7 linked regions of the Homo sapiens genome follow. The protein of the gene in region 1 purifies or fractionates together with the protein of each later gene. This does not show direct contact. Each region holds a gene or a part of one and is shown in the gene's direction. Other genes may lie near its edges.

The links.
Region 2: the proteins of ASXL1 (region 1) and PGAM5 purify together in Homo sapiens (affinity purification with mass spectrometry; one large-scale study listed by BioGRID and IntAct). This does not show direct contact.
Region 3: the proteins of ASXL1 (region 1) and IPO9 purify together in Homo sapiens (affinity purification with mass spectrometry, with the first as the bait; one large-scale study listed by BioGRID). This does not show direct contact.
Region 4: the proteins of ASXL1 (region 1) and ENO1 purify together in Homo sapiens (affinity purification with western blotting; 2 studies listed by BioGRID, with this or other methods). This does not show direct contact.
Region 5: the proteins of ASXL1 (region 1) and CCT8 purify together in Homo sapiens (affinity purification with mass spectrometry, with the first as the bait; 2 studies listed by BioGRID). This does not show direct contact.
Region 6: the proteins of ASXL1 (region 1) and AAR2 purify together in Homo sapiens (affinity purification with mass spectrometry, with the first as the bait; one large-scale study listed by BioGRID). This does not show direct contact.
Region 7: the proteins of ASXL1 (region 1) and KLHL22 purify together in Homo sapiens (co-immunoprecipitation; one large-scale study listed by IntAct). This does not show direct contact.

Annotation. Positions count from the first base shown.
Region 1 is NC_000020.11:32,424,331-32,427,830, forward strand, and holds part of ASXL1 (polycomb group protein ASXL1), read left to right. Parts: intron 1-3,500.
Region 2 is NC_000012.12:132,713,842-132,717,341, forward strand, and holds part of PGAM5 (serine/threonine-protein phosphatase PGAM5, mitochondrial), read left to right. Parts: intron 1-1,016; coding exon 1,017-1,195; intron 1,196-3,500. UniProt on the Homo sapiens protein: Mitochondrial serine/threonine phosphatase that dephosphorylates various substrates and thus plays a role in different biological processes including cellular senescence or mitophagy. Modulates cellular senescence by regulating mitochondrial dynamics.
Region 3 is NC_000001.11:201,853,157-201,856,656, forward strand, and holds part of IPO9 (importin-9), read left to right. Parts: intron 1-1,438; coding exon 1,439-1,558; intron 1,559-1,666; coding exon 1,667-1,767; intron 1,768-1,967; coding exon 1,968-2,026; intron 2,027-2,626; coding exon 2,627-2,778; intron 2,779-3,500. UniProt on the Homo sapiens protein: Nuclear transport receptor that mediates nuclear import of proteins, such as histones, proteasome and actin. Serves as receptor for nuclear localization signals (NLS) in cargo substrates.
Region 4 is NC_000001.11:8,872,187-8,875,686, reverse strand, and holds part of ENO1 (alpha-enolase), read left to right. Parts: intron 1-769; 5' UTR 770-778; coding exon 779-863; intron 864-3,500. UniProt on the Homo sapiens protein: Glycolytic enzyme the catalyzes the conversion of 2-phosphoglycerate to phosphoenolpyruvate. In addition to glycolysis, involved in various processes such as growth control, hypoxia tolerance and allergic responses.
Region 5 is NC_000021.9:29,056,649-29,060,148, reverse strand, and holds part of CCT8 (T-complex protein 1 subunit theta), read left to right. Parts: intron 1-3,500. UniProt on the Homo sapiens protein: Component of the chaperonin-containing T-complex (TRiC), a molecular chaperone complex that assists the folding of actin, tubulin and other proteins upon ATP hydrolysis.
Region 6 is NC_000020.11:36,242,978-36,246,477, forward strand, and holds part of AAR2 (protein AAR2 homolog), read left to right. Parts: intron 1-1,719; coding exon 1,720-1,949; intron 1,950-3,500. UniProt on the Homo sapiens protein: Component of the U5 snRNP complex that is required for spliceosome assembly and for pre-mRNA splicing.
Region 7 is NC_000022.11:20,468,296-20,471,795, reverse strand, and holds part of KLHL22 (kelch-like protein 22), read left to right. Parts: intron 1-280; coding exon 281-446; intron 447-3,500. UniProt on the Homo sapiens protein: Substrate-specific adapter of a BCR (BTB-CUL3-RBX1) E3 ubiquitin ligase complex required for chromosome alignment and localization of PLK1 at kinetochores.

The DNA of each region.
Region 1 (3,500 bases):
TCAAGACCATCCTGGCCAACATGGTGAAACCCCATATCTACTAAAACTACAAAAATTAGCTGGGCGTGGTGGCAGCCACCTGTAATCCCAGCTGCTCGGGAGGCTGAGGCAGGAAAATCGCTTGAACCCAGGAGGAGGAGGTTGCAGTGAGCCGAGATCATGCCGCTGCACTCCATCCTGGGTGACAGAGCGAGACTCTTGTCTCAAAAAACAAACAAAAAAACTGCCACCTAGAGATGGTGGTGGCCAACAGCTTAGTAAGAATTTCTCTTGCATTTTTCTATGCAAACACATTCAAATTTTCATTTTTTAAAAAAGATGATAGAATCATACTGTATGAATTTAATTGCCTAATTAAGCTTGTGTATCATCGTTTCTCTTGTCATTAAATGCTGTACAGCTTTCTTTTAAATGGCTATCTGTGGTAGTGTTCCTTGAAGGAAATACCTTAAAATTTTTTGTTTTTAAACTTTTATAATTGTGGGAATGTAATACAGTGAATGCATAGGACACAAATGTTCAGCTTAAGGAATTATTATAAAGTGAACACCCTGTAACTGCCACTTAGATCACGACATCAAATATGGCCAGCAGCCAGGCGCACCTCCCCTACCCCCCACTGCCCCTTCCCAGTCACAGCCCCATTCTTCCAGCTGAAGGTAACTTCTGTCTTGACTTTATGAAAGTTATTTTCTTGCTTTCCTTTAGATTACCTACCCGTCTTTGCATTCCTAATGCTGTAGTTTAGTTGAGCTTATTTTGAACTTTTCACAAACGGAATCATCAACTATGCATTATTTTGTATCTGGCTTTCATTCACTATTTTGTTTTTAATATTCATCTATGTCGTTAGTAGCTATAGTTCATTCATTTTTTGTTGCTGTATAATCATCCATTTATTGAATGTACTACAATTTGATTCTGCCTTTGGCAGCCACTTTGATTGTTTATAATCCAGATTTCAAATGCTGCATCATGAACATGTGGGTTGTGATTTGTGTAGATGTGCATGTACTTCTCTAAGGAATCCAAGCCTAGGAGGGACGTTGCTGGGTCAGAGGATGTTTGTATCTTCAACTGTACCAGATAAGGCCAAATTGTATTCTCAAATGCTTGGATCTGTTTTCAGTGTACTTGTTCTACTCCTAATTAACACTACTTGATATTGTCAAACTTTAATTGTAGCCATTCTGATGGATGTGGTAGTATCTCATTGCGGTTTTAATTTGCATTATTTTGCATTTTCCTTATTGTTAGTGAGATTAAATACCCTTTTATATGTTTTGGCTACTTCAGTATCCTCTTGTGCAGTGCCTAATTCACATCTTTTATTTTTCTTCTGAGTTGCCTTTTGCCCATTGATTTATATTTGTTCCCCCTCTCTCCCCGCCCCCAAGAAGGAGTCTGGCTCTGTCACCCAGGCTGGAGTACAGTGGCACAATCTTGGCTCACTAACCTCTGCCTCCTTCGTTCAAGTGATTCTCCTGCCTCAGCCTCCCAAGTAGCTGGGACTGCAGGTGTGCGCCACCACGCCCAGCTAATTTTTGTATTTTTAGTAGAGACAGGGTTTCACCATGTTGACCAGGCTTGTCTTGAACCCCTGACCTCAAGTGATCCATCCGCCTTGGCCTCCCAAAGTACTGGGATTACAGGTGCAAGCCACCATGCCCGGCCTGATTTATAAATGTAGTCTAAATACAAGTTCTTTATTGGTTATGTAAGTTGCAGATATCTTTTTCAGCTCTGTAGGTAATAATGTTTTTTGATGAATAGGAGGTCTTAATTTTAATGTAGTTTAATTGATTTGTTTTCTCCTTTGTAAGAATCAATATTTTTCATGTCCTGTGTAAATCTCGTATTGGGATAAAAGATACATATATATTTTTTAGGTTTTGGCTAATAGTTTTCCGTTGGCAGCATGTGAACCTTTTTATGCCATTTTTACTTTCATCAAGGGTGTATGTATGATTTTCTCATACTCTTGTCAGAACTGGAGATTTGGGGTAACTTTGCCAGTGTAATAGACTTTCTTAATTCATTAAGGAGTATTTTATCTTAGTTTGCCCATGAGAGAAGAGAGATTAAATTTGTTTTATTATACCAAGAACATGGCAGTCAATAAGCATAACTAAAAATATTATTTAGCTTTTGATTCTGAAGACCATGTATGGCCAGTAAGGAAAAGAGGTAAAGATGTAGAAAACTGTTTTCTTTTTTTTCTTTCTTTTTTTTTTTTTTTTTTTTTTTTGAGATGGAGTCTTGCTCTGTCGCCAGGCTGGAGTGCAGTGGCGTAATCTCAGCTCACTGCATCCTCCACCTCCTGGGTTCAAGTGATTCCCCTGCCTTAGCCTCCCGAGTAGCTGGTACTACAGGCGCGTGCCACCACACCTGGCTAATTTTTTGTATTTTAGTAGAAACAGGGTTTCACCGTGTTGGCCAGGATGGTCTCAATCTCCTGACCTCGTGATCCACCTGCCTCAGCCTCCCAAAGTGCTGGGATTACAGGTGTGAGTGAGCCACTGCACCTGGCCTCTTTTTTATTAATTTAAGATACATGATTTTGGCTAAAACTAATGAAAATAAATTGATGAAACTTCAATGTAGTGGATCAAGAGACTCATGAAATTGATGAGTTAGATTGTTGTGGGCACCTGTTTTAAATTTATGGTGCCTTTTTAGCAGAATCATGACTTTATCAACTCTTTTTCACATACTTTTATTCAAAGAAGACATTCTCCTCCTCTGCCCCAACTTATCTTCTTCTTGTCTCCAACTGCCAGTATTCTCATCCACACTCTTTGTAGTTTTGAGGTGTGAGATAACTCCCAAGTTCTTCTTGGGAATGGGTAGAGTTTAATTCTGAGTCTACATGTCGTGAGTCTATTGGAAGAAGCTTTTCTTAGGAGGTGAAATTTGGGATGGAGTTCTCCTCTACACTCTAGCCCTGTAGCCACAATCTTTGGTTTAGATCTTTGGCATTTTTTGTTGGACATCTTTCATAGTGTCTACCTCTTCTTCCTGCCTCTAGGCTTCCCGCGGTTGCCAGATGAAATTCCGAAAACTCAAATCATTCCTGTAGTTAATATTCTTCAGTGACTCCGGAACAATCAAATTCTTGATCCCTCCACATGGGTCTTACCATCTGCCCTCGTGCCCTCTCTAGCTTCCTGCATATTGAGTTCCCCACAGCCCTAGTTTCCCTGAGTTTGGAATATTCTTTCACATTTGCTCATCCCACTATCTAGAAACTTCCTACAATCTCTCTACTGCCAACCTGTCTGTCTAGTTGCTAATTTATTTTAAAACCCAGCTTAAGCAACACATCCTTTTGGATGTGTTACTTCCCTGATCGTTATTCACCTCCATGCCGTCTTTCGCTCAACTCATTGAAGTTAGGTGCCCCTCTTCTGGGCTGCCACGGCTCTCCATGTTCACCTATGTACTGTACTTTGTATTGTAATCAGTTTAATTGACCCCCCTACTTATTTGAGCTCCTTGAG
Region 2 (3,500 bases), on another chromosome or scaffold:
ATGTTTTTGTAGAGACGGGGTCCCCCTGTGTTGCCCAGGCTAGTCTTGGACTCCTGGGCTCCAGTGATCTGCCCACCTCGGCCTCCCAAAGTGCTGGGATCCACTCTTTTTCAGATTCCAGCAGCTCTGGAACAGACCTTCATAATGGGAATGTTTTCTTCCTCACTGAGTGTTTGTTTATTTATTTATTTTCTGAGGCGGAGTCTCACTCTGTCGCCCAGACTGGAGTGCAGTGGCACGATCTCGGCTCTCTGCAACCTCCGCCTCCCAGGTTCAAGCGATTCTCCTGCCTCAGCCTCCCAAGTAGCTGGGATCACAGGCGTGTGCCACCAAGCCCGGCTAATTTTTGTATTTTGAGTAGAGGTGCAATTTCACCATGTTGGCCAGGCTAGTGTCGAACTCTTGACCTCAGTTGATCTGGCCACCTCAGCCTCCCAAATGCTGGGATTACACGTGTGAGCCACTGCACCCGGCCTGAGGGTCTAAAATGTGCTTAGTATGACTGAGGACATGATGTTTTAATTTTATTTAATTTTGCTTAAATTTTGAATTGAAACATCCTCATAGCTAGTGGCTGCTGTTGGGCATTGCAGTTCTAGGCTCTGCTGAAGCATCATGGTCAGGGAGGCCCATCTTGGCCCCGTGGACACTTTCCGCCTGCGCCCCGATAGCCGCTGTCCTCTTTCCTAGCCTGGCGTTCTCCGTAACCACAGTTGCGTTTGGGGTAGTCTGTCTCCTGCTGTTCACTGTCTGCCTCTCATTAGAGAAGAAGATGCACAGGGCTTTGCTTGTCTGTTTTGCTCTCCAGCGCATCACTCAGAACAGACCTGGCACTAGCTTTGTGGGAGGGAGAGTGGCGGTATGCTCAGAGAGGCCTCCCCAGGGCTGTGCCAAGGGCCTTGTCTTCTCTCCATGCTCTTCCCAAATAGTCTGACAATTTGGAAATAACATCTTGTCAGAAAAACTCAAACTTGGGAACAGAGGTCTCAAGGACATATCTTGTATTTCAACATCAGGCGAGAACCACTGTCTCTGATCAACGTGCGGAAGAGGAACGTGGAATCTGGGGAAGAAGAGCTGGCGTCCAAGCTGGACCACTACAAAGCCAAGGCCACGCGGCACATCTTCCTCATCAGGCATTCCCAGTACCACGTGGATGGCTCCCTGGAGAAGGACCGCACTCTGACCCCGCTGGGTATGTGGTGGGTTCAGATCCTCTGTGGACCCTCGTGGTTATGTGGCCAGGTGCATATCTGCTGGCGCCTTGGTTATGTGACTGGGTGCAGGTCCTCCGCCGACCCCCTTGGTCAGCTTTCTTGAAAGTGCTTGGGGCACTGGGCCTCCTGGGGCCCATGTCCGAGACCATCACCCCTGAATCACACATTATTACCAGTAACTGTCAGCTGAACTTGGACAGAAGACAAGCTTTTCAAAATGTCCTTACCTTGGCCGGGCGCGGTGGCTCACGCCTGTAATCCCAGCACTTTGGGAGGCCGAGGCAGGTGGATTACCTGAGGTCAGGAATTCGAGACCAGCCTGGCCAACCCGGCAAAACCCTGTCTCTACTAAAAGTACAAAAATTAGCCAGGTGCAGTGGTGGGCGCCTGTAGTCCCAGCTACTCGGGAAGCTGAGGCAGGAGAATGGTGTGAACCCTGGAGGCGGAGCTTGCAGTGAGCTGAGATCGCACCACTGCACTCCAGCCTGGGCGACAGAGCGAGACTCCGTCTCAAAAAAAAAAAAAATGTCCTTACCTTGGCCAGGCACGGTGGCTCACGCCTGTAATCCCAACACTTTGGGAGGCCGAGGCAGGTGGATCACCTGAGGTCAGGAGTTCGAGACCAGCCTGGCCAACAGGGCGAAACCTCGTCACTACTAAAAGTACAAAAATTAGCCGGGTGCAGTGGCAGGCACCTGTAATCCCAGCTACTAAGGAGGCTGAGACAGGAGAATTGCTTGACCCTGGGAGGTGGAGGTTGCAGTGAGCCAAGATTGCACCACTGCACTCTAGCCTAGGTAACAGAGTGAGACTCCGTCTCAAAAAAAAAAAGCCCTTAACTTTTAGCAAATGTTGGACAGATCTTGTTTGCATGAGACCAAATGCAGTGCATATCCCAGCAGTGATTTTATACCTGCTTGATGCCTTGGAAAGCGGCGTGGCTTGTGCCCTCGGCTGCTCACCTGGACCTGCTGCCAAAGACGCTTCTCTGCGGCCTGTGGCACTCACAGGCCTGATGCCTGGCGTCTGCTTGTTTGTTTGTTTTGAGACATAGTCCTGCTCTGTTACCCAGGCTGGAGTGCAGTGACGTGATCTTGGCCCGCTGCAACCTTTGCCTCCTGGGTTCAAGCAATTCTCCTGCCTCAGGCTCCCAAGTAGCTGGGACTACAGGCACACGCTGCCACTCCCAGCTATTTTTTTGTATTTTTAGTAGAGACGGGGTTTCACCGTGTTAGCCAGGATGGTCTCTATCTCCTGACCTTGTGATCCACCCGCCTCGGCCTCCCAAAGTACTGGGATTACAGGCGTGAGCCACCACACCCAGCCTAATTTTTTTTTTTTTTTGTATTTTTAGTAGAGATGGGGTTTCACCATATTGGCCAGGCTGGTCTCAAACTCCTGACCTCGTAATCCGCCCGCCTTGGCCTCCCAAAGTGCTAGGGTGACAGGTGTGAGCCACCGCGCCCGGCCTGGCCTCTGCCTCTTAATGCCCTGTTGAACAGGCGGGACTGAGCAACAGGATCCCGCCTGTCCCCACTGGCAGATGCTGCATAGACAGCGTCCAGGAGGGTCCTTCCACCTTGTCCTTGTGTCCCTGTGCAGGTGGATCTGTAGAAGAAATGCCTGCCTAGAGAAGGAAATGCAGGGTGGGCTAAGGTAGAGTTTACATTTTGAAAAGTTCTTCGAATGGGATAGTGCCTGTTCATGCACATACTAAAAGTTCAGATAGTAAAAATGTGCAGGGCTGTCCTCCACAGACGCCGCCCCCCAGTCCCCAGAGCTGTCCTGGCTGCTTGTGCACAAAGAAAGTGGAGTGACAGATGCAGGTGTGGCTGCATCCAGTGGCTTCGGCCTTCCTGAGGCGTTTTCACCTGGATGCAAAAGCTCACAAGAGAAAAGGCATCTGCACTGGTGTCCGGCCCCCACATAGCAGCTTGGGGTGTTTAGGTCCCGCTGTGTTGGCCTCCGCCATGGCGCGTGGTTGGGGGCCTGTGAGGCTCAGGTTTTGGACACAGTTGAGTGAGGGTGACAAGGGGGGACCCAGAAACCACCCCTGGGCCCCACCAAGCGCCAGCCACCATCCGGTTTGCTTGCTGCTCCATTGGTGGAATCAGATGCATGTTTTTTCCTGTATGGGGGTGAAGACAGTTGAGTGCCGGCCCCTCTGGCCCAAGCCTCGGGCGGGCAGGAGCCATCGGCTGAGCTTGCTGAGCTTGCTGCCTGATCAGGGGTCGTGTTTGCGGGCGGAGGAGGGGGTGTTTGCGGGCGGAGGAGGGGGTGTTT
Region 3 (3,500 bases), on another chromosome or scaffold:
CAGTGAGTCATTTCATGATAGCAGCACGAAAAAGCACACTAACCAGTATTAGAGATAGATTTAACATTTTTATTAAATTATTGTTGTTATTTTTCCAGACAGGGTCTTGCTCTGTCACCCAGGCTGGACTACAGTGGTGCAATCATGGCTCACTACAGCCTTGAACTCCTGGGCTTAAGTGATCCCCTGACCCCCAGTAGGAACTACAGGTGTGGTGTGCACCACCACACTTGGCTGATTTTCTTTTTTAAATGTTTGTAGAGATAGGGTCTCACTGTATTGCCCAGGCTGGTCTTGAACTTCTGGGCTCAAGCAGTCTTCCCCCCTCAGCCTCCCAAAGTGCTGGGGTTATAAGCATGAACCACAACACTCAGCTATATTTGTATTTTTTTTATTTATTTGGGTTTTTTTTGAGACAAGATCTTGCTCTGTCACCCAGGCTGGAATGCAGTGGCATGATCATAGCTCACTGCAGCCTCAACCTCCCAGGTTCAAGCAATCCTCTCACCTCAGCCTCCCGAGTAGGTGAGATCACCAGCATGTGCTACCACTCCTGGCTAATGAATGAATGAGTGAACGAATGAATTTATTTATTTATTTAGAGATGGAGTCTCGCTCTGTCACCAGGCTAGAGTGCAGTGGTGCAATCTCAGCTCACTGCAACGTCCGCCTCCCAGGTTCAAGTGATTCTTCTGCCTCAGCCTCCCGAGTAGCTGGGACTACAGGCACGCGCCATCATGCCCAGCTAATTTTTGTTTTGCAGTAGAGACAGGGTTTCACCATGTTGGCCAGGATGGTCTCAATATCTTGACCTCGTGATCCACCCACCTCGGCCTCCCAAAGTGCTGGGATTACAGGCATGAGCCACCATGCCCAGCCTAATGAATTTATATTTGTAGAGACGGGGTCTCTCCCTATGTTGCCCAGGCTCATCTTGAACTCCTTGGCTCAAGTGATCCTCCCACCTTGGCCTCCCAAAGTGCTAGGATTATAGGTGTGAGCCACCACACCTGGCCTGATTGAATTTTCAACTTGTAAAAAGCTTAGTCTTCTTTTGAGTCTTACTTCTTCAAACACCTTATCCTATATCCTTTTCATAGTAGTCATCCCTTAGAACTTTCCTACTCTTTTATGGCCCTCTTGTGTGAAGCAAAGCTAGCTGAAAAATACCAATCCCTGTGATTCAGAAGCAGTTAGGAGGAAAGTTGGTCTTACATAATAGTTTTTAAGAGGGCTTTGATGAAGAACTGCAAGTGCTGGTTAAGGAAAAATGAAATCTTAGGTAACACCTTCATTGACTTTATAGCTATTCTCTTCTGATCAGGCTTGGAGCCTGAAGAGAGCTTTAGGTGCCTTTCAAATATCAGTGTTTGATATATATGTGTTGAAGCCATGGATTAGGGGTTTGTCCAGTATTGACTTTGGTTTCTGTTATCAGGGTGCAGCCAAAGTCCTGATCTTTCCCGTGGTACAGCAGTTCACAGAGGCCTTTGTTCAGGCCCTCCAGATACCAGATGGCCCCACATCTGACAGTGGGTTTAAGATGGAGGTCCTAAAGGTAAACACTTACTACCAATGAAATATTTGGAGTTTGAGGGGCTGGTCTGAAATCATTTATTTCTTATATATCACTCATAACTTGGGTCCTTTTCTCTTAACTTCTTAGGCAGTGACAGCCCTAGTGAAAAACTTCCCAAAGCACATGGTGTCCTCCATGCAGCAGATTCTGCCTATTGTTTGGAACACCCTAACCGAGAGTGCAGCTTTATATCCTTTCTTGAAAGTTTAAGGGAGCTACTACCACCTATAGTTAGGAATCTCGCACTGGGTTTCACATTCATATGGTTCCACTCTTCTTACACAGGCTTTTTTAAGGTGTCTACTTTTAGTGTTGGAATATGTAACATTTCCATGTAGATTATATGTAAAGCAGACTCCAAATTCTATTTCTTTACTCTTCATCATACTTATGTGAGGACAGAAGTAAATTACACAGAAGAAGTAGAAGATCCTGTGGATTCTGATGGTATGTAGTTTATTTGATCTTTATAGAAATACCAGTTAGTGGGAAAAGAAAAAGAAGCCAGAGATGGGGGCGGGAAACAGTAACTTGAGAGGCTTCACTCTATTAAGTGTTTTCTAATTCAGTTTATTTTCGATGTATTCGATGTGGGGAAATGAGAATTGACAATCTTTAATCTGTTCCACATAGGTAGTTGCATAAATCTCATAAAATCATAGAATTTCTGCATTGGAAGAGATACTTTTAAGGCCATTTAATCTAGCCTACTTCTGGCATTTTGTTGTGTTTCATTTGGGGGTCCCAGATCATGAATCTTTCGTTTCTGTTTTAACATTTCTCATTATTTCAGATTAGAACAATAGACATACTGGAAAATATATCCAGTGTTTCTGATTCTTTTACTTGAAAAACCAAAGAATATTTAATATCCTCAAAATTACGTTTTGTGACCTCTGAGCCCTCTCTCCCAATTCCTCAGGAATGATCATTAGCAAGTACTTTAAATATTCAGTAATTTACAAAGGTTATGTAGTTCATTTTCTGCATATATGCTTTCCTTTTGCTTTCTTGTCATTAATTTCTTCTCTTCTGTATTTCCTGCAGGTGAAGTCCTGGGCTTTGAAAATCTCGTCTTTAGCATTTTTGAATTTGTCCATGCTCTACTAGAAAATAGCAAATTCAAAAGCACTGTTAAGAAAGCCTTGCCTGAATTGATTTATTATATTATCCTGTACATGCAAATCACTGAGGAGCAGGTAAATAATATTTGAGAGACAGTTACCATCTTGTATTTGGAAAGTGCAACTTGAAGAATATGAGGTCTTGGTCAGGTGAACACTTTATTTCTAAAAATAGACACAAAAAGAATAATTTCATGTGAAGTTCTGGGAAAGGTTTGACATCATTTTATTGCCAAATCCAAGGTTTTGGAGTTCACCACCATACCTGGCTTTTTTTTTTTTTTTTTTTCCCAGCAAAGTACTATACTATGTTGCCCAGGCTAGTAGTCTCTAACTCCTGGGCTCAAGCAATCCACCCACCTTGGCCTCTCAAAGTGCTGGGATTACAGGCATGAGTGACTGTGCCTGGCCCACTTTTGCCATTAGAAAATCTCACAGGACCACTAACCTAAGACACTGATTTTTAGGAGAATCTGTTCCTTCCCTAAAGTAAAATGTAATAATCAGACCATTAGCCTGATGGTGGGTCATCAAAAGCAGCAAAGAACGTTCAAAAATTAGATAACGCCTCGTTTAAAACAGCACAAGAATTGACATAATTTTCACAATAAATAGTCTATCAGACTTAATCTATTCAGAAAATCGATCTATCAAAGGGTAACAGCAGGTTGACATTGGCAGAGAGCTAGTAATCAGCCAGATTCTAAAAGAGAGCAATAGCCATTGCTACCTACCTTGCTACTTAATAGTATTTATTTCTCTACATCAAAAAGAAAAGATTTTTTTAAGCTAGAGTT
Region 4 (3,500 bases), on another chromosome or scaffold:
TCACACGGTCCAAGGACTTCATTGTTCCTGACTTCCAAACTCAGAATTTCTGATCAAATACCTACTAAGTGAATATTAATCTGAAGAATTATGTCCAAACTTCATTCACTATTTTGTTTTAATTCTGCTACAAGCAAGGTTTTCCCCTGGTCCCGCCACCCTCTTTTTGGCCCTAGGTGGTTTTGCTTGTGACCTTCATGTCTGTTCTTGGTTCCTTTCCATTCCCATGCCAGCCCTCATTGTTCACTCATGACAATAGCCAGTTTCAGACAGCTCCTGGGCCACTCTGCGTCGAGCAACACATTCATCTTTCTATTTGGATTTGATTCTCCCTGGGCACACACGTTTGTGGGCTTTTTCTCTCTCTTTTTTTTTTTTTCTTTTTTCTTACAGAACAAGACCTCAATTGCTAGGGTTTAACCCATTTATGCCAGAGGTTGCAAATCTTTTTTTGTGAAAAATCAGACCTTGGCAATGACTTGAGCAGTCGGATAAAAGTAACTCCCACGCCCTTAGCGTTCCAGTAATGGAATACTAGGCATAAAAAGGTTAAGGCCTTCCGCAGCTAGGCCCTAACTACTTAATTAGGAGAATTCTCACTGCTTTCCAGCAGGCTTTTCCCCCCACCCTAGCCAGCTTTCCTACATCCAGTATTTAGTCCAGTGCTGATTCTCTCTAGTCCACGAACCTCGGAAGTGATTCCTTGAATGAGTGAGGAAATGCAGCATTATGGCTTATGGAAAACATGAACTGTGTGTTTCTTCTACAGAAGTTCACCATGTCTATTCTCAAGATCCATGCCAGGGAGATCTTTGACTCTCGCGGGAATCCCACTGTTGAGGTTGATCTCTTCACCTCAAAAGGTATGTGCCACCTCCTTGGTTTCCATGGTTCCTTCCACCGTGCTTCATTTTAAAAATTTTCTACAAATGCTGGAGCCTTAGGAAAAAAAAAATCTGTTAAAGCTTTTCTTTCTGTCTGCACATGCTAGTAGGTTGTGATTCCTGACTGTGAGGGTTGGGGAATTTTTAGGCATGGAGCCAGTGTCTTGCTGTTTCTCGGCTTATTTTTTTCTTTTTCTTTTTCTTTTTTTTTTTTTTTTTTTTTTTGAGATGGAGTCTTGCTCTGTCACCCAGGCTGGAGTGCAGTGGCATGATTTCAGCTTACTGCAACCTCTGCCTCCCAGGTTCAAGCAATTCTTCTGTCTCAGCCTCCCAAGTAGCTGGGACTACAGGTGTGCACCACCACACCTGGCTAATTTTTGCATTTTTGGGAGAGACGGGGGTTTCACCATATTGGTCAGGCTGGTCTCGAACTCCTGACCTCACTCAGGTGATCTGCCCGCCTCTGCCTCCCAAAGTGCCGGCATTATAGGTGTGAGCCACCCCGCCTGATCCTGCCAGCTCCTTGGCTTAAAACCACATAAGTTGGCTCCTAAGTCAGTGAAGTAAGGAAGTAAGGTGATACCACAAGACCTTGTCCCTAAAGGGGCCCATCACTAGTTGTTGGCTGACAGCTTGCTGTGACCAAATGCAGGATACAGTGTGATAGGATGGTATCTCTTGATAAGGGGAGGGATAGCAGGTGTGAATATAGCACCTTTATCTCTGTGACTAGAAATCAGTCTTCAGCAAGGATCAAGGACAGTTTTTACCTGTAGGCTTTGGAATAGTCTGGAGGCTCTCATTTTTACCTGGCTGTCAATCCCTATAGGAGGAGTTTTCTTATGAAAAATTAGAGAATTGTGAAACTCCTTCCTTTAAGAAGAAAATCCAGTGCCTTTGTAGCTCTGTGTTACCTCCAGCACATGGCGCGATGGACAGAGTGGGTGAGGTTGGCAAAGGAGCTTCAGGCAGAATCACTCAGCGGTGCTAAACTCACAGAGAACTGCCAGTCGGAGCTGAGTCACCATCTGTGAGTCACAGGCCTAGCAGTGGAACCCCAGCCCTTCCCTTCCCCTTGCACCTCCCCTCCCCCTCAGGAAGAAAGGATCCTTGAGGCCTGACTTCGTTGGGCAAAAGAATGCCTGAGTTGGCTGCTTGCTGTGTGGGCTCTCAAGCACTGTGGGGTTTCTCACTGGCTTTATGGGGAACCCTGAGGGTTCTCACAGGATGCCAAGAATTCCCTTCATCCAGTAAGAGTGGTTTGCTTAGTCAATGGGTGGAACTTTCTACTTGGATATTAATGAACTTTAAGCAACAAAAGACCCCAGATGCTAGAAGATTGTTGGGAGTTGGACATTTTGAAATTGAAATGAATGGAACTTTCTCTTGTGTGTCTTAATCCTTTTCAAAAAACATGAAATGATGGACTTGCTCAGAACCTTTCATCTCTCTCTCTCCCTGTCTCATCAACTTTTTTAGAGCAGTTTTAGGTTCACAGCAGAAGCAGGCGGAAGGTGCAGAGGTACATAAACCCATGAGTACCCACTGCCTCTGCACATGCGCAGCCCCCCCATTGTCAGCATCCCCACTAGAGTGGTCAACATGCGTGAACACGTTATCATCACCAAAAGTCTGTAGACTCCAAGCCTCTTGTTTTCATCTTGTCTTTGCCTGATCCAGTGTAGGGTGGATATGTAGGGAGCCAGGGCAGCTTTCAAGAAGGAAGTATGACCTGTTGATAGCGCACACTGCAGTGCAGCAGGGAACACTGCTGGGTCCTTTGCTAGAAATATCTTGTTGGTTTCTCTGCAACATCTTCCTTGACACCATCTGTTCTTTTGCCTCCACCAAAGATTGCCCTTGTTACAGGTATAGGTTTCACCAGATGGCTGGTTTCAGTATCTGCAAGATTACTTGGTTCAGTTCTTACATTTATTAAACTGCGCATTTTATTATCTTTATTCCTTCCCCCCACATCCATCCTGTTTGCCAGTTTCCAGTTGGGCATAGAACCCCTAAAATAGCATTTAGCATTGTCCAAACTGAAACAAATGAGCTAGATACTCCTCCTGAGCCAGTTAAATTACCCTAATTTTATGCTTAACATCAATATAGTACCTGTCTGGGCATGGTGGCTCATGCCTGTAATCCCAGCATTTTGGGAGGCCGAGGTGGGCAGATCACCTGAGATCAGGAGTTCAAGACCAGCCTGGCCAACATGGTGAAACCCCATCTTTACTAAAAATAAAAAAACTAGCCGGGCGTGGTGGCAGGCTGCTGTAGTCCCAGTTGCTGGGGAGCCTGATGCAGGAGAATCGCTTGAACCCAGGAGGTGGAGATTGCAGTGAGCCAAGATCACGCCATACACTCTAGCCTGGGGGATAGAGCGAGATTCTGTCTCAAAAGAAAAAAAAAGTACCAGAACGTCTTCAATGCCCTGTGTGGCTCGCATTGGATTTCTCTTGGGCAGTGCTGCTGGAGTAATCCACAGGGCACCAATGCGAGCTTGTGAGGGATGCATATTTGCCTGGGTCAGAATCTACATTTTAACAAGACCTCCAGGTGGCATGTAGGCTCTGCTGTAGAACACTTTCTTTCTGCTAGAGGAATTAGTCA
Region 5 (3,500 bases), on another chromosome or scaffold:
TGAGATACTAAAAGATGTTAAAGGTGTTTAAAATCATATTTCTACCCTTTTTTTTTTTTTTTTGAAGAATTGTGGTAGACTGTTCTATATATAGAAGTAAACCTGAAATCATAATTATTTTTCCAAAAGGTATTTTCTGGCAAACTTAATTAAATACATTTCCCCACAAAATTCTAGAAGTAATTAATAAGCAATGACTATTTATAAGTACTTAATAGAAAATTTTAATTTGCTAGAGGGACAGTATACATCCATTAGGTAAAAGTCATATGTCATATTAAAGGTGGAGTAAGTCCTAAGTAGAAATCAGTGGAAAGACATTTCAGCTTTTAAGTACAGTAAGGACCAGTTGGTGGTAATTATAACAAATTTATTGGAAGAACTATGATAGCAAGAGATGACCAAAAATGGAACTGGATATTTAGTTTCAAGTCATTGAAAATAAGCAGAAACTAGATGTTTATGTACCAGATTAACGGGTTTCTCTGTCAGCTTATTAGGTGATTTTCAATGGAAGAATATGTTTGAGTTCTTAAATAGAAACCTAAGAAAATACTTATTCTAGAAATTAGAATGTGGCTAAGAATAAAAGGGGAAACCAAAAATAGCAGGGACGGAAGAAGCTAAGTAGACTGCAGCATAAGGAACGCAGAAATTCCAACTGTGTTAGGAACTTTGAATGTCAATTATTCAAGCAAGACAATAACCACCACCCTTGGTCACAAAGGCAGTTTGAATTTTGGCTTTAAACTAGGAAGTCTGCTTTATCTTATGGTAGGGGAAGTTGTTGGTTGATCTGTTCCCCCAGTCTTTGCACTCTATGTGAAGTATGTATCTAAAGAACCCATCCAACTGTATTAACCAGTTTGTGTATATAGTGTATAGTATAATGAACCTAAATTTGTATAGTATATATTCTAGAAAAGGAATTGCACATCAAGCTTTAAGCATTGGATAGTGTAGTACGGACTGGATTAATCTTTGTTGGAATGTCTATTTCACTAGTTCTCAAAGTATGGTCCCAAAATAGTATCAACATCACCTGAGAACTTGTTAGAATGACAGTTCTCAGCCAGGTATGGTGGCTCACACCTGTAGTCCCAGCTACGCAGGAGGCTGAGGTGGGAGGATCACTTGAGCCCAGGAGTTGAAGGCTGCAGTGAGCTGTGATCACATCATGGCACTCCAGCCTGGTTGACAGAGTGACACTCCATCTTTTAAAAAACTAAAAATAAATAAGAAATACAGATTCTTGGAGGCCAGGCGCGGTGGCTCACGCCTGTAATCCCAGCACTTTGGGAGGCCAAGGCAGGAGGATCACGAGGTCAGGAGGTTGAGACCATCCTGGCTAACATGGTGAAATCCCGTCTCTACTAAAAAAAACAAAAAATTAGCTGGGCGTGGTGGCAGATGCCTGTAGTCCCAGCTACTCGGGAGGCTGAGGCAGGAGCATGGCATGAACCTGGGAGGTGGAGCCTGCAGTGAGTAGAGATGGCACCACTGTACTCCAGCCTGGGCGACAGAGCAAGACTCCATCTCAAAAAAAAAAAAAAAAGAAGAAATACAGATTCTCAGATGTCACTCCAGACCCACCAATATCAGAAATGCTGGAAGAGGCCTAGCAGTCTGTTTTAATGAGCACTTTTGATTATGGTGCCCACTAAAGTTTGGGAACTACTTGTTTTAGTGTTTGTTTCTTTTTTTTCTTTGAGATGGAGTCTTGCTCTGTCACCAGGCTGGAGTGCAGTGGTGTGATCTCAGCTTACTGCAACCGCCACCTCCCAGGTTCAAGCAATTCTGCTGCATCAGCCTCCCGAGTAGCTGGGACTACAGGCGCATGCCACCATGCCCACCTAATTTTTTTTTGTATTTTTAGTAGAGACGGGGTTTCACCATGTTGGCCAGGATGGTCTCGATCTCTTGACCTCGTGATCTGTCCGCCTTGGCCTCCCAAAGTGCTGGGATTACAGGCATGAGCCACCACACCCAGCTTTTAGTTACTTTTTAAAATCAATGTGCACTTAGGTTCTAAAATTATGCTTAATGCCTTTAATTCAGTCTGAAATTACTCTCAATTGGTAACATGTTATTCTGAGAATTTCAGGTTTAGGTATCTTTTTTGTTGTTGTTGTGATAAGGTCTTACTCTATCACCCAGGCTGGAGGACAGTGGCACAATCATAATCAGCTCACCACAGCCTCAAAATCCTGAGTTCCAGTGATTCTTCTGCCTTAACATCCCGAATAGCTGGGACTGTAGGCAGGTGCTGTCATGGTTGGCTGAGATATATATCATATATATCTGATATGTATATATCACACATATCATATGTATATATCATACATATGTATATATCATACATATCTCATATATATCATATATATCTCATATCATACATATACATGATATATATATCATACATATATGTATGATATATATTATATATGATATATGTATGATATATGTATCGTATATATGATACATATATCATATATATATTATCAAATGTTATATATATATTTTATATATATATATATTTTTAGTTTTTGTAGACTAGGTCTCACTTTGTTGCCCAGGCTGGTCTCAAACTCCTGGCCTCAAACCTTGGCCTCCCAAAGTGCTAGGATTACAGGCATGAGCCACTGCCCAGTTCAGGTTTGCAGATGGTAATTAAGATGTTTTCCAGCCGAGCGCAGTGGCTCACACCTATAATCCCAACACTTTGGGAGGCTGAGGCGGGTGGATCATGCAGGAGTTTGAGACCAGCCTGGCCAACGTGGTGAAACCCCGTCTCTACTAAAAGTAAAAACTTAGCCGGGCATGGTGATGGGCACCTGTAATCCCAGTTACTCAGGAGGCTGAGGCAGGAGAATTGCTTGAACCCAGGAGGCAGAGGTTGCATTGAGCCAAGATCGCGCCACTGCACTCTCTAGCCTGGGCAACAGAGCAAGACTCCGTCTCAAAAAGAAAAAAAAAAAAAAAGCTAAAACCTATTTATTTTAGATAAAGTAAGGTGAGGTTTGTGGCGCTTTTTTTTTTAAGTTGGGAACTTAGATTTTTGTTTATGAAAATTCCTGGCTGCTTGAATGATTCTCATTTACAGGTTTTAGAAAATTTCAGTGTTAAACTTTGTATATACTTATGTATCAACTACTTTAGATTATAATGGCAAAGCTGGCAGGTGGGCCTAAAGCTCCTAAACCACAAGGAAATTGGGACAGAGATGGTTGGCAAGACACATCTCATATATAAATAGCAAATCAGGTGCCAAACTGACCGACTTACACCAGTGATGCATGCACATATTTTCACTTTCAGCTTTTTGAGTTATTGAAGTGCATGTCTTGGAATGTTCACTAATCTCTGTGGATTTTATTGCGGTTATCCATAAAAGCAGTAAACTTTCTCATGCGCTGAAAGTTTACAATTGAATTTCTAACAAGGGAGCTAGCAAACTCTGTGCTGTAGTGTTTTATATGCAGTACATAATTATACCAAGA
Region 6 (3,500 bases), 3.8 Mb from region 1:
CTCCCAAGTAGGTGGGACTTCAGGTGTGTGCCACCACGCCCAGCTAATTATTTTTGGTTGAGATAGGGTCTCCCTGTGTTGCCCAAGCTTGTCTCAAACTCCTGAACTCAAGCAATCCTCCTCCACTGACCTCTCAAAGGGCTAGGACTATCCCTGCCACCGCACCTGTCCAGGGATAATTTTGAATCTACATCACACCTCTTTGAAAAATATAATTTAATTTTAGATAAAGTCAGAAATGCACAAATTTAATAAATGTCCTAAACGCAAATAATAGGCTAATATTTAGTTTCACAAACCAAGTAAAGCCAGCTGAAGAAGCAAATCATTAACCTATATTATACAAAGAAAATTTGACTATATTTGAAAATATTGGTCAGAAATCCAAAATTTCTAAACCAGGTAGCTATTCACACAAATCAAACTTAGTTCCGTATGCTTAGGAACAGGGAGCTAGTTTTTCCAGGTCTCTGGAGGTGGCACAGATCAAACGCCATGCATTTAAAGAGGTATTTGGTGTTGAGTACATCTCTTCTTTTTATGGCCCACATGTATGTATACCTCATTAAATTTCCAGCCACCTTTGAAGTAGAGAGAATGCCTGTGATGAGGAGCAGTATTCTGTGGTAACCAGAGACCCAGTTACTTGCCCAGGGACAGTGGTGTCTGGATCATCAGGTCTCTGTTTGAGATGGGCATCTGATAGAAATTGGGAACATAATATTTTTTGAGTGCTACTTTGTGCCAGGTCTTATTCTAAATGCTATACATGTACTATATCCATTCATGTAATCTTTGCTACAACCCTCAAATAAGGAAATTGAGGCCTTAATAGATTGAGTAACTTGCCCAAGGTCACACAGCTGCTAAGTGGCAGAGCTAAGATTTGAAGCTAGGCAGTTTGGCTCCAGAGCCCATGCTCTTAGCCACCAAGCTGCTCATAGAGATTAAATCACAGAGCCCTGTGGTTAAGCAAACAAAAATAATCTGCCTGGCAGGCTGACCCTGGAATAAGTACTCATGAATTTTTCTTTTGTGGGAGGTTCCAGAACTGTTCCCACCCAATGGAGAATCTGTTTTATCTTTCCGTTGCCCACATTGTGAAGCATTAGATGTGTGGCCTTGGGCAAGCCCTTGACCTTATCTATGAAATGAGGCAAATACCATCTTCCTGATCGCCTTGTGGAGTTGGGCTGAGGGTTACATGGTATAGTGCAGTATTTCCTGACCCTGGAGCAGACCATCCACATTAGAATCACCTGGGGAGCTTGTTAGAGCTACAGATACGAAGGCCCCATCATCTCTCCTCCACCAGAACCTCTGAGGGTGAAGCTTGGGTAGCTTTACTTTTAACAGACTCTCAGTGATTCTGATGGGCAGCCAGGTTTGAAATCCACTTGGCATAATATCCATGAACACATTTTGTAAACTTAAAATGCCAGGCAAATACTGGGAATACCTCTTCTCTAGCAGTCTGATTTTATAGAAATCCAAAGCCACAGGTTGGTTTCCCATGGCTTGAATTCATAGCGGTTCAGCAGACATCTATTGAGTACCTGTTAGGTGCAAAATCTCCTGCCAGGCTCTGCAGGAGTGACAAGGATAAAAGCTCATCTGTTGCTGAGGTCCAGTGGAATTCATGGCCTTGTGAATAGTGATGGAGAGTGTCAGCTGGTCCTCCTCTCCCTCAGAATCACTTCTCCTCTCTGCACCTTTCAGGTGAACTCCAGTTTGCTTTTGTGTGCTTCCTGCTGGGGAATGTGTACGAGGCATTTGAGCATTGGAAGCGGCTCCTGAACCTCCTGTGCCGGTCAGAAGCAGCCATGATGAAGCACCACACCCTCTACATCAACCTCATCTCCATCCTGTACCACCAGCTTGGTGAGATCCCCGCTGACTTCTTCGTAGACATTGTCTCCCAAGACAACTTCCTCACCAGCACCTTACAGGTGAGCAGTCTTTCTGACTGAGCTGATGCACATGTGGGTCAGAATTGAGGCAACAGTATGTGTTTTGTTTCTCGCTATTCTTCCATGACCCCAAAATTTTTAAATTTCAGTTTCCTAGTCTTGGGATATTTCCTGCTTTTCTCTCTCTTACTCAATTGTAAGTGCCTCTATGCCAGAAATTTTCTCTCTGTACCACCCTCTCCCTACACCTCGTCCCCAGAGTGCCTAACACTGGGGTACTTGGATTTGAATTCCTCCCACTGCTTTGGTTTACTCAGCTTAAAACAGCGTTTCTTTCTCCCTGTAGCCATGAATTGCTACAACCCAGTAAAGCAGAATTTTGAAGTTTGTTATTCCCAGTGAAACATCTGCAGCTCCTTAGATCTCATTTAAGCATTAAAATAACTTTGATTTCCTGTTCAAACAAAATGTGCCAGTTTCTGCAGAGATTCTATGACAGAAAAAGTGAAATTTGCTTTTAACTTGGCAATTAAATTTTCATTATGAGTGGTAATTAGGAAAGAAGCTTCAAACAACTTACAATCTTCATCCTATGCTATTTCCTCCCTTTGCAAACAGATTAGTCCTTTATGTACTTGGGACAGCCTCTGTCACTCACATTGTGTAACTTTCTCAAGAATAGAAGAGGCAGAAGCTGCCACTGTCAGTTTCCATACTTTCCCTCCCATGAGCTTCTTTCTTCTCCCTGTGTGTAATACCCCCATGAGGCCTGCTCCATATAAGGCAGCCTTTCACCAACCTTCCAATCCCACTCGGGGTAACAGAAGGGACGAGCATTCGTTAAATATTGGGGCTGGGCGTGGTGGTTCATGACTGTAATCCCAACACTTTGGGAGGTGAAGGCAGGAGGATCACTTGAGCCCAGGAATTAAAGACCAGCTTGGGCAATATAGTGAGACCCCGTCTCTCCAAAAATTAAAAAATTGGCCAGGTATGGTCATGTGCACCTGTAGTCCTAGCCACTTGGGAGGCTGAGACAGGAGGATCACTTAGCCCAGGAGTTTGAGGCTATAGTGAGCAATGATTATGATCGTGCCACTGCACTCCAGCCTGGGCAACAGAGTGAGACCCTGTTCACTCATTGAATCCCTTTGGAGCCTTGTAAGATGGGGGTATTATTCCCATTTTACAAATGGGAACACTTGAGAATGGTTAAATCACTTACTTGAAGTCATACAGCTGGCAGGTGGAGGTCAGGATTTGTACCCAGGCCTGAGTCTTGGTTTCCTGCCTGTGCTTATGCCCTTGTGTAGTGAACACAGTGTGAATCCCCCAGAAAGGATTCTTGATTGACATCAGTGAAGACTTCATCGAGGTCCTGTTTCTCAGAGGTACAGAACGCTTTTCTAAAGCCAACCTACTGTTGGATGAGTCCCTGTGAGCAGGCATCTGACTTAAAGCTGGCAGTTGAAGGACCTGTGTAAACCATGGCAATGAGTCAGTCAAGCGCATGATTTGAGCCTGGTCTGTTCCACTCAGAAGAGCTATAAAACTGTCCTTTTACTGGTTCTTCATATAACAGAGAAATTA
Region 7 (3,500 bases), on another chromosome or scaffold:
AGCTGCTTGTGGCCTCACCTCCCGAAGCTCACATGGGACTCCTTGGGCCCATGAAAAGGGAAACAGGACAATTTCCAGGATGGCTGCCCAGACTTCGTCAGGATCCTTTTGTGGGATGGCTCATGCATGCACACAGTTCACTCAGAGCACAGAGTGGGTCAGCCCACTACCAGGGCCCTGCCACCAGCGCCAGGTTCTTCTCTGAATGCTGTCACTCTTGGCAACATGGGCTTAAGTCCCTGTTGGTATAACTCCATTTTCTTGTGTCTTCACTTTGCAGAGGAATGTTTGCTGGGGGATTGAAGGAGATGGAACAGGAAGAGGTCCTGATCCACGGTGTGTCCTACAATGCTATGTGCCAAATCCTACATTTCATATACACCTCCGAGCTGGAGCTCAGCCTGAGCAATGTACAAGAGACACTGGTGGCTGCCTGCCAGCTTCAGGTGAGGCATGTCTCATCTAGCAAGGCAGACCCACACCCAGGTGGGGTTCCCTGAGATGCCCATGATGCCTGCCGGGCACTAGCATTGGCTTGAAGATGGGTCAGGAATGTGAGGAGACCAAGCAGTGACGAAGGCCATGAAGTGGGGAAGACTCTGGAGTTGTTCCTGGAGCTCAAGCAGAGCCGCTCTAGACACCCCAGGCCTCTGCCTTTGCCCTCTTCTCTATTGCTGGTTGTTTCCCCACTGTCTGAGTCTCCCTGTCATTGAAAGCATCCTGCACATAAGCAGGTAGGCTGACCCGAGGCTGCATGTGGACGTCCTGTGTGCTCTGGGGTCTGGCAATGGGGAGCATCCACCAGCATTGCTGCCAGGGCCCTTCCTGCCTGTCCCCTCACTGGGCCACTTCAGTCTCTTGAAAACTTATGTGTTTTGTTACTGAACTTTATCTATCTATTTGTCTGTCCATCCATCCATCCATCCATGCATGCACGCATCCATCCATCCATCCATGCATGCATGCATCCATCCATCCATCCATCCATCCATCCATCCATCCATCCATCTATCCATCCATCCATGCATGCATCCATCCATGGTGGCAGGCATCCATCCATCCATCCATCCATCCATGCATGCATCCATCCATCCATCCATCCATCCATCCATCCACCCATCCATCCATCCACTCATTCAATTTATTGGAGACAAGCTCTCTCTCTCTTGCCCAGGCTGGAGTGCAGTGGCACGATCACAGCTCACTGCAGCCTCAACCTCCTGGGCTCCAGCAATCCTTCTGCCTCAGCCTCCCAAATAGCTAGGACCTATAGGCATGTGCCACTACACCTGGCTAATTTTTAAATTATTTTTATAGAGATAGAGGCTTGCTTTGTTGCTTAGGCTAGTCTTGAACCCCTGGCCTCAAGTGATCCACCTCAGCCTTCCAAAGTGTTGCGATTACAGGTGTGAGCCACTGCGCCTGGCCTATTTTTTTTTTTTTTTTAAAGACAGGGTCTCACTCTGTTACCCAGGCTGTAATGCAATGGCATGATCATAGTTCACTGTAGCCTCCACCTCCTAGGCTCAAGTGGTCCTCCCGCCTCAGCCTTCTGAGTAGCTGGGACTAAAGATGCGTGCCATTGTGCCTAGCTGATATTATATATATATATATTTTTTTATAGGAATGGGGCCTTGTTATGTTGCCCAGGCTGGTCTCAAGCTCCTGGCCTCAGGTGATACTCCCACCTTGGCTTCCCAAAGTTCTGGGATTACAGGTGTGAGCCTCTGTACCCAACCTGTTATTGAACTTTAAGTACTTGTTTTCCTGCAGAATTCAAAAAGTTTTCTGAGGCTTTGACAGTGTGACTTATGTTTTGGATGATTATTCTCAGTGGTGTGGGTGCAGTTACACGGGACTGGGCCTGCAGGTGCCTTTGAGCTATCAGGCAGAGGCCTGATAGGAGTTGACAGTCACCTCTTCCCACATTTCTTAAAAGTGAAACAAAATGCTATGCTAAGTTCATCATTCTGACCTTTCTTCCCATGAGAGCAGGTTTGACGCAATTAAAAAAAAACAACTCAAGTCACAGGAAAACCAACCTGTTCGGGGGCATGTGGAGGTGCCACCCCATGTGACAGGGCCCTGGCAGCCTCCCTGTGCCCTGTTCTCAGATTGGTGGATAGGACCTGGATGCTGGGTGGGTTGATCTGAGATGACTGACTTGTCTCACCATACCTGCATGGTGAGTAGATGGAGTTGGCTTTTACAACAAAAGAATTTCCCCCTGTTCTTTTATTTAGAGATCTCTTCTGTCCCCACATCCCTGTCATTGTTGCTTTGGGAACCCTCATCCAATTCTCCACCCTGGCAGCAGTTAACTCCTGATTCAGCTGCCTCTGAAACATCTCCCCCAGCATGGCTCAGGTCCAGCTGTCCTATCTCCTCCTCCACACCTGCCACTCTCCCGGAGCTCCCCTGTCAGTCCCCCTGCTCTGTGTGTCCTGTGACCATCCTGCCAGTTCCCTGGGCTCAACCTCAGTGGCTCCTTGAGCCCGTCCACCTTCTTAATTCCCTGCGTCCATGTGAGGACAGGTCATCCTTCTCGGTATTGCTTGTAGCCATCTCTGTTCTGTGTTTCCATTTCCTTCCCTTTTGCCTGGCCTCCATCTGTATGTTTCTGCCATTTCTTTCTTCTCCCTGCAGTGATCACACACACTGAAACCAGATCATCTTTCTAACATCACTTTCCCTCTCTCACCAGTCAGCTTGGAGGCCTGCAGTCTCTCTCTGTTGGTTTGGCCAGTGCTCCCGACAGCCCTGGGTCATCTCCCCCAGTGCCTCAGAGGTCATCTCAGAGGCAGCAGCCTATCTTAGTTTTTTAACATATCAGGCTTCTGGGCCAGGCTTGGAGGTTCATGCCTGTAATCCCAGCACTTTTGGAGGCCAAGGTGAGAGGATTGCTTGAGGCCAGGAGTTTGAGATCAGCCTGGGCAACAAAGCGAGACCTCTACAGAAGCACTTTAAAAATAGCCGGGCATGGTGGCATGCACCTGTAGTTCCAGCTACTCGGGAGGCTGAGGTGGGAGAATCACTTGAGCCCAGGAGGTGGAGGCTTCAGTAAGCTGTGATCACCACACCACTACATGCCAGCTTATCTCAAAACAAAAAACAAACAAACAAAAAAAAACAGGCTTCTTCACAATATTGTTTTATAGCAGGTTTTACTTGGCATAACCATGTCAAGTCCATAGGCCTGTAGAATCATGTATGTTCACATAGCTAGTGACTTTTGGAGGCTTCCCCCATGTGTTGTGCCCTGCAGTAGGCCTGGGACCAGATTCTTCACGGTGTCCCCAGAGGCCTGAGTCTGATTCCCAGTAACACTGTCCTATTGGGTTACCCCAAGCAAATGCAGTCCCTTCTGTGAGCCTCGTATGGGGCTTTTGCACATCCTGAGCCCAGGCTGGTTCCTCTGTGAGATTTCACTGAACAGAAGGCCCACTGCTCTAAAAATAGGACTGAAAGGAGAGTCAGCAGGGTCCTCTCAAGGAGCTGCT